Linked DNA regions of Homo sapiens. The protein of the gene in region 2 purifies or fractionates together with the protein of the main gene of each other region. This does not show direct contact. Each region holds a gene or a part of one and is shown on either strand. Other genes may lie near its edges. The genes, in order: CERT1 and RUBCNL.

The links.
Region 1: the proteins of RUBCNL (region 2) and CERT1 purify together in Homo sapiens (affinity purification with mass spectrometry; one large-scale study listed by BioGRID and IntAct). This does not show direct contact.

What each region holds. Positions count from the first base shown.
Region 1 is NC_000005.10:75,400,130-75,403,954, forward strand, and holds part of CERT1 (ceramide transfer protein), read right to left. Parts: intron 2,930-3,825; coding exon 2,843-2,929; intron 169-2,842; coding exon 76-168; intron 1-75. UniProt on the Homo sapiens protein: Shelters ceramides and diacylglycerol lipids inside its START domain and mediates the intracellular trafficking of ceramides and diacylglycerol lipids in a non-vesicular manner.
Region 2 is NC_000013.11:46,370,161-46,373,985, forward strand, and holds part of RUBCNL (protein associated with UVRAG as autophagy enhancer), read right to left. Parts: intron 2,438-3,825; 5' UTR 2,316-2,437; coding exon 1,781-2,315; intron 1-1,780. UniProt on the Homo sapiens protein: Regulator of autophagy that promotes autophagosome maturation by facilitating the biogenesis of phosphatidylinositol 3-phosphate (PtdIns(3)P) in late steps of autophagy.

The DNA.
Region 1 (3,825 bases), on a different chromosome or scaffold from region 2:
CAAATAAAAGATATTTCCACCAACAATGAAGAACAATACAAGGTGTACTTTTAGTAAACTCTGACATTAGCTTACCTTTTGGACAAATCTATGTGTCCCCACAGAAGAAAAGGCATCTCCAGAGGGCAAGGATGTAGGCCAATGTAATCTCACCTTTTCACTCTGTGACTAAAAAAACATATAATATTAAGATGGGAAGGTTTTAAAGTGTATTTTGTAACTCAAGAATGGATAATATAACCTGGAACTACCAACATTCACTTAGTGAACGCCTTAGTGCTTATAACCATTAGAATTATGAAACTACTCCGCAGACATGGCAAATCCTGATACTTGCCTCAGATATCCCAATTTAACCTCTTCTTTCTGACTCCACAGATACTATGTTAGGCAAGGGATAAGTTCGTTGATTTTGCTCCTAGTCAGACTCCCTGCTACCTGCATAGCATTATTTATCATGGGTCAATCTTAACGCTGCTGCCAATTCTCTCCTATCCAAACCCTGGCCAAATCATTCCAATGATTCTACCTTAGCAGGCCGCCCCTGGAAGGCTGACTCACAGGTTTATATATAATTAGAAATAATATCATTGTTTGCTTCAGTTATGTTCCTAAGAACATATCATGTATATCTCTTTGCCTCCTCTCCATGAAGGTATTCTGCCCTTCATCTCATCATCTTACTCCTGTTAAGCTGCCACTTGCCCTTCTTCCTCTTTAGTTTGCCTCAGTTGTTCTCATTTATTTCAACCAACTGCTAAGATCTCATTTCTCATGCACCAGTTTATCCCATGTATCTTTCTTTCCCTATGTTTGCAAGTAACGTAAACTCAAACATGTGTGATGTAAGTGTCACTTGGAGAATATCTATTTAATGGCTGTGTTGTTGAGAGATCTGTGCAATATACACTGAATATGAAGAGGGAAATGATCTAAATCTATGGAACTGATTTTATGGATTACTGAAGCTCTCACTACTCTATAGAGTATTACCACACTGTATCTCTGTCATATCAACATGCCTGGCTCTTAGGCAAGAAAAACAATGCTCTGTTCAATGACTATTTTGCAGAGCATCTAGTACAGTGTCAAGAATAGAATGAAGTTGATTGGATGGCCCCATGAATATTTCTTTTTCTAAAGCTTACGGAAGGGTTCATCAATTCTCTCAAACCCAACTCAATCACCATACTGATATTCAGTAGAGTAGCATTTTAGAGAGAAGAGATGTTTTGAATCATCTTGTCTCCTTTGTTTCACAGATTAGAAAACCAAGGCCCAGAGAATTCAGTGATAAGTTCATAGCTACAAAGTTAGTTAGAGGTAAAACTAAGAGTAAGACTGAGGTGTCTTGACTCATTCACTACTTTTTCCCAAAACAGCACATCCTAGACAAAAAACTAAGGGAAACAAATAAATAATGCTACTTCAGGTAGTACTTTAGGTTTCCAAAAGTAGAGCCCATTTAGGAACTAAAAGTTCCCACTCTTCTTGAGTGGTACATAGCATCTTTTGGGTATAAAAAAAATGAGCAATAAGCTTTACAAATTAATGTGACATGAACTTTTTATCAGTAATTTTTAAAAAAATAACGAAAGATACACATGAGAAGCAGTTACTACTGCAGGTGATTTACCCTTAGGTAGACCAATAAGAGCATAATAGCCATGACTGTCTTAGCAATGATAAGAAACGAACAAGCCAACTTTTCTATGCAAATTCATTTGTAGTATAAAACTGACACATACATGATTATTTGGCAAGATACTCTGTAGCCACAGTTTATTAATACTTGCCCCCCAAAAAGGTTAAGCTTCCACCATAACTAGCATAGCTTAAACAAGGGGAGGAAATAACAAAATTCATCCTTAAGTACCATCTAGTTGTAACGTATGGTAACTGTACTGTTGCCAAATTAAAGAAGACAAAGTATCAAATTAATCTTGAAGCTAGTTAATGGGTTTAAGAAATACTTTTCTTCAATTTCCACAGCAGCTGGGTGTAACTGCTATACACTCAATAATGATGACAAAACACTGAACAAAGCAAAAGTGAGAAAGAAACTGAAGGTGAAGTAGTGAAGGTAATAAAGGGGTTAATAAAAACAATACTAATATAGATGAAAAACCTTAAGTTTTTGGTCATCTTCCTTTTCATATCATACTTGGTGAAGAAAAATTCAAAGAAGCTTTTTACTTAGACTAAATATATGCTTTATATTAAAAGAATGTTTTAAGCTGGACACTTAAAGGGAAATAAGCAAAAAGAGCATTTCTATTTAAGTTCATGTTAATTACGCATGGTTCCTTTTAACAATTATTGGTTTTCTTTCTATTGCTTGGAAATTCACATATAAAGGAACTGACTTATAAAGATTATTTTACGGCCAGTACCATGGCTCATGCCTGTAATCAATCCCAGCACTTTGGGAGGCTGAGGCGGGTGGATCATGAGCTCTGGAGTTCGAGACCAGCCTGGCCAATATGGTAAAACCCCGTCTCTACTAAAAACACAAAAAAATTTAGTCAGGCACGGTGGCGCGCACCTGTAGTCCCAGCTACTCGGGAGGCTGAGGCAGAAGAATCGCTTGAACCCAGGAGGTGGAAGTTGCAGTAAGCCGAGATCGCGCCACTGCATTCTAGCCTGGGCAACAGAGCGAGACTCTGTCTCAAAAAAAAAAAAAAAGATTATTTTACATTTGTGACTCAATGTATTCACAGTTAAGCTTCTAGGTTATTAAGTTCACAATGTTCAAATTCTATTTACATGAAATAATATACACCAAGGAATGCCTATAGTGTTAAAATAAATTTCAGCTTAGAATTTTCAATAATAGATATACCTGTTCTTCTATTTTATCTTGTCTGTCAAGAGCAGCTTCAACAGCATCAAAGAACTCTTCTTCATTAATCAGACTGTTAGGGCCTTCCTATTCCAACACACAGTGGAGAAAAAAGCAGTTTATTTAAAGAAACAGAAAACTCTGATAACTCTGGTATTAACTTGAGTTTGAAAATTGACCTAATAAACATTTATTGAACACATATTTACAAAGCAGTCAGTATACTAGATCATATGCATGCTCTGTGTAAAATCACGAGTGTTACAATTAATTCACTCAGTACTCATATATTTACTTACTGTATATTGACCAATATTGTGTTGGGATAATAGTCTAGAGCAGAGATTGGCAAAAACTATGGCCCAAGGGCCAAATCCAGTCTGCTGCCTACTTTTGTACAGCCTGTGAGCTAAGAATTTCATTTTTAAATGGCTGGAAAAAATAAAAGTAATAATATGACATGTGTGAATTACTTGAAATTAAAAGTTTGGTGTCCATAAAGTTTTACTGGAAAACAGTGATGCTCATTCAGCTATATATTATCTAGGGCTTCTTTAGTAGCAGAGTTGAGACTTATGACAGAGACAACAGAGATATAAAATTGCAATGAGGTAAGTAAAAATTTGCACAAGAACTATAGCTAATAAGTACGGCTAGGCATTCAGAGGCGGATCTTCCTAAGCACAGGTAATTGTTTCATGGGGAAATAAAAGTTGAGTTGATGCTTGATAGTCTGGCTAGATGGCAGAATAATGGCCATCAATCACTTGGGGAATTGTGTGGGAGACTTCTTACAATGAAAATTCCCAGGCCTCCATGGCCAAAAATTATTTCTTAGTAGGTCTTCAGTGGAACCTTGGAATATACATGTTTAATAATTCCCTCAAGTGATTCCCATGCAAGTGGAACCTCAGCTGCATCAGAAGATAAACATACAAAGAACAATAACAAAATGTAAACAATCAACATATGTTCCTGCTGTG
Region 2 (3,825 bases):
GCTGTCCGTTCACCAGCTGTGCCTCTGCATCAAAACGCTCTCAGCCCTTAAATTGGGATATTTATCAGGACACTAAGGAGATAAAGGAAGGTGAAAGTGCTTGTAAATGTGTAGTTCCTATGCCAACAAAATAAACTGTGGAATCCCTTCCTACAGCCTTAAGAAATGCTTACAGAGGCCGATAGTCTTTCCCTAAAGTATTTTCTGAAAAAAGAAAACCCTTTTGCCGCCATCTGAGATGCAGCGGTCATAGGAATGTCCACATCTTAGTGGCCAATGGCTGTTTTCCCTATTGCTGCCTCCGCACCAGAGAAAGAAAGAACCAGATCACTCAAGGCTTCTTTTTCTTAATCTTAAAGAATGAATCCCCTTACTGAGTTTAAGAGATATTCTCAAAACATTCCGTGAGTTGTTTCTAAAGGCACTGACAGGAGCTGTTGGGAGTCCTTGTCTTTGGGCAAAAGGGGCTGGGGTATCTGTTTTCTTTCTGAGTAAAAGAAAAAGCTAAAGGATAATTTTAAATTGTAGAACTACTTCCTGTACCATGATAGAATAAAAAGTTTCAGGCAAGGGTATGCTAGGCCCCAAAGATCATCTTCAGTTTATTATAACTTGTCATTATGGTGGTTCTCTGTTGGGGAGAGGGCTTTCCTCTATAAGACAATCTATTAAGACTAATCTCTCACTTAGCCACTACTAAATTTGCAAGTCACTCTTAATCCTTAGAACTATCCAAGCAAGTGAGCAAAAAAATAGGAAAAAAAAAAAAAAAAGGCCTGTAATCAGTCTTGTCATTTTGCTCAAACTTGGTCCTTATCTCAAAATTAACCATTGAAAGATTGTCCAAAATTTGTTCTTCTTAAGCAATGAATAAATGTGTTAAAGACTGTCATCATCTTTGATTGCTCAAACATTTCCAAAAGAACACATAAACTCCATATTTTAGGTAAGGGGGAAGATGAGCTCCTGCTAGTGAGAAATAAATATACAGAGAAATAGACAGGCAGGCAGCAGGCAGACTGATGACTTTTTAAATTGCTTTGAAAGAAAAAGCTTCATTGATTATTTATACTAGGGTTTGAATAGAAATGTAAATTAATAATGACAAGTGTGACTATAACAAATATTTTAAAATGAAATAAACATGTCACAGATTATAACAATAATAGCTAATTTATTGACTCTTGAGTAGTACTTCGCACGGATTATCCAATTTTTAGGAATTTTAGGGTCTTAGGAATATGTACATTACTTCATAGCAGTGAGAGCCCTTGTTTTAATAAAAAGGGGTTTTGTATAGTCTTCAGGGGAAACTGTAGTTATTGTTTAAAAATCTTACCATTTTCCTGTCAGATTCTATACAGGTAAATATAACAAGTGAAGTGACTTCACCACCTACTAGGTACTGGTGTGAAATGCAGACCCCGTGGCTGTCTGGAAACACCTCCAACCTCCACACTGACTTGAGAGTGCTTCCGATGCTCTCCCCTGTAGACAATTTAATGAGCTCTAAGTTCCTGAAGGCAGACGCCAGCTTAAAGATGGCACATGGCACTGATTATCAACTACATTAAGCTAAAAAGATAACAATTCTCTGCAGTCTAAGGAGAAAGCCAATATTTGATTTCACCTGTTGTGACCGCCCAGATGGCTGGGCTGCTGACAATATTAGATGAGGCAATGCATTGTCCCATGGGGAAGACAACAAGGCAGGCTTTAGAGCAAGGCGAAGCAAGGGTGTGAACAGAGAGGAATGAGGGAGGTCACCTACTAAAATTACCTTCATCAGCAGCAGATGTCAGATGGGAAGGCTCAAAAAAAGCACTGTCAGTCTCAGGATATGGGGAGGTGGCCAAAATCCCAGGGCTTGTGGGCAGAGACACCCGATGAGAGTATCCTGGGCGGACCATGTGTACCTCTGTTGAGGACAGAGAGAAGCTGCTACTCTTTTCACTCGAGCCATGGGGAGAAGCGCTGCCAACGGAGTCTGTGGTATCCTCAGACAACGTTGTCTCTGCCAGGGAGTCCCCGAGGCACGAAGGTGAAGGGCCTGAGGGAGAGGCAGCATCTGTCACAAAATGGGTCCCACTGTTCCCTGCTGCTGGCACCTGAGATTGCAAGTCCTGCGGCTGTTGCTGCACATCCTGGGGGTTAATCCAGACAGCTTTGTGCCTCATGAGCCTGATGTCTAATTGGCAAGGAGGATGGTCAGTGTTCAGGAGTCTGGGCGAACCATCAATAATGCCAGAGTGATCGCTGATCCCTTCCCAGGGCTCCACAGGAGAATCCTGCCTGACTGTAGATTGTGACACCATCTTTCCAGGCTTGTGGCTGGTGTGAATCCATTCAAAACAGATAGGAGTTCCCTGATTGCTGGTACTACTTGATTTGGGCCCTGAACTCACCACATGGCCAGCTGGGGGTCTGGAGAGCTATTCTGCAATGAGCAAGGAATCATTCAAAATAAGTAAGAATTCAATTGTATTTTGGCTACAAATTATTTTGAGATGGCAAAACCCAAAAAATTTAGAAGTCTGTACTTGGCTCTATCCAACATAGTAAAGCCCGCTTGGATTTATAAGTGAAAAAATAAATAAATCAGCCATAAAACTAGCAGTAAACCTACAGAGGCTTGACATTGGGAGAGGAAACATTCTTCAAAGCATAAAATTAAGAAATCACAAAGGATCAACTGATAAATCCCATAAAAATGTAAAACATCCATGCATCAAAATTATTTTAATAAAATTAAATGTCAAATCCAAGACAGGAATACTATCTGGAAGTAAAGACACATTTCCACATTTTCTTTCTTTCTTTTTTTTTTTTTAAACACAGAGTCTCACTCTGTCACCCAGCCTGGAGTGCAGTGGGGCCATCTCGGCTCACTGCAACCTCCGCCTCCCAGGTTCAAGCTATTCTGGTGCCTCAGCCTCCCGAGCAGCTGGGATTACAGGCACGTGCCACCACGCCTGGCTGATTTCTGTATTTTTAGTAGGGACGGGGTTTCACCATGTTGGCCAGGCTGGTTTCAAACTCCTGACCTCAGGTGATCCACTCGCCTCAGCCTCTCAAAGTGCTGGGATTACATGCATGAGCCACTGCGCCCAGCCATTTCCATATGTTCTTATTTTCATTTAGTTTGTTCTTGTGTTTCAACAAAGTAGGCAAAGTGGTACATAAAACAGAGGGATGATCCATAGCACTGAAGACTTTGCTTCATGTAACTTATATTACCTTTCATACTTATAATATCAGTATCAATGTATTCTCAGTTCATAACATTTAAAGAACACAGTATGAATCTAGAACCCATCTTTAAAACCCACTCACTTCTAAGCTCAGATTTTAGCTTTAGTGAAGACGTAATGATTAAAATGTTGAGAGCTACACAAACAAGAAGCACTCTTGTCACTGTAATTACAGGCTCGGGAAATGTTTTGCTTTTCTGTTCTTCCACTGCCCTCTGCATTGTGAAGCTAAAAGCAACTTTCAACAGCAAAAAGCAAGAAGAGACAGGGGAAGGCCTAGAGATAGAAGGGTGGCCTATGCCACATTCACCCTGCACAGTGGTGAACAGGAGACTTTGGAGTCAATTACAGGGCTGTAAATACCATTGCTGTGCATGCAGGCAACTCCCACATGTATCTCTATTTCTGATTTCCCGGCTAGCAAATCTTATTGCCTATTTGACATCTGTCCAGTGGGCACTGCAACCTGATACATCCAAAACAGTCACTCACTTCTCCTGAAACCTGCTCCTTCCCTGCTTTTCCCTCTTCCAATTGCCCAAGCCTGAAACTTAGGAGTCATTTCTGATCCTAT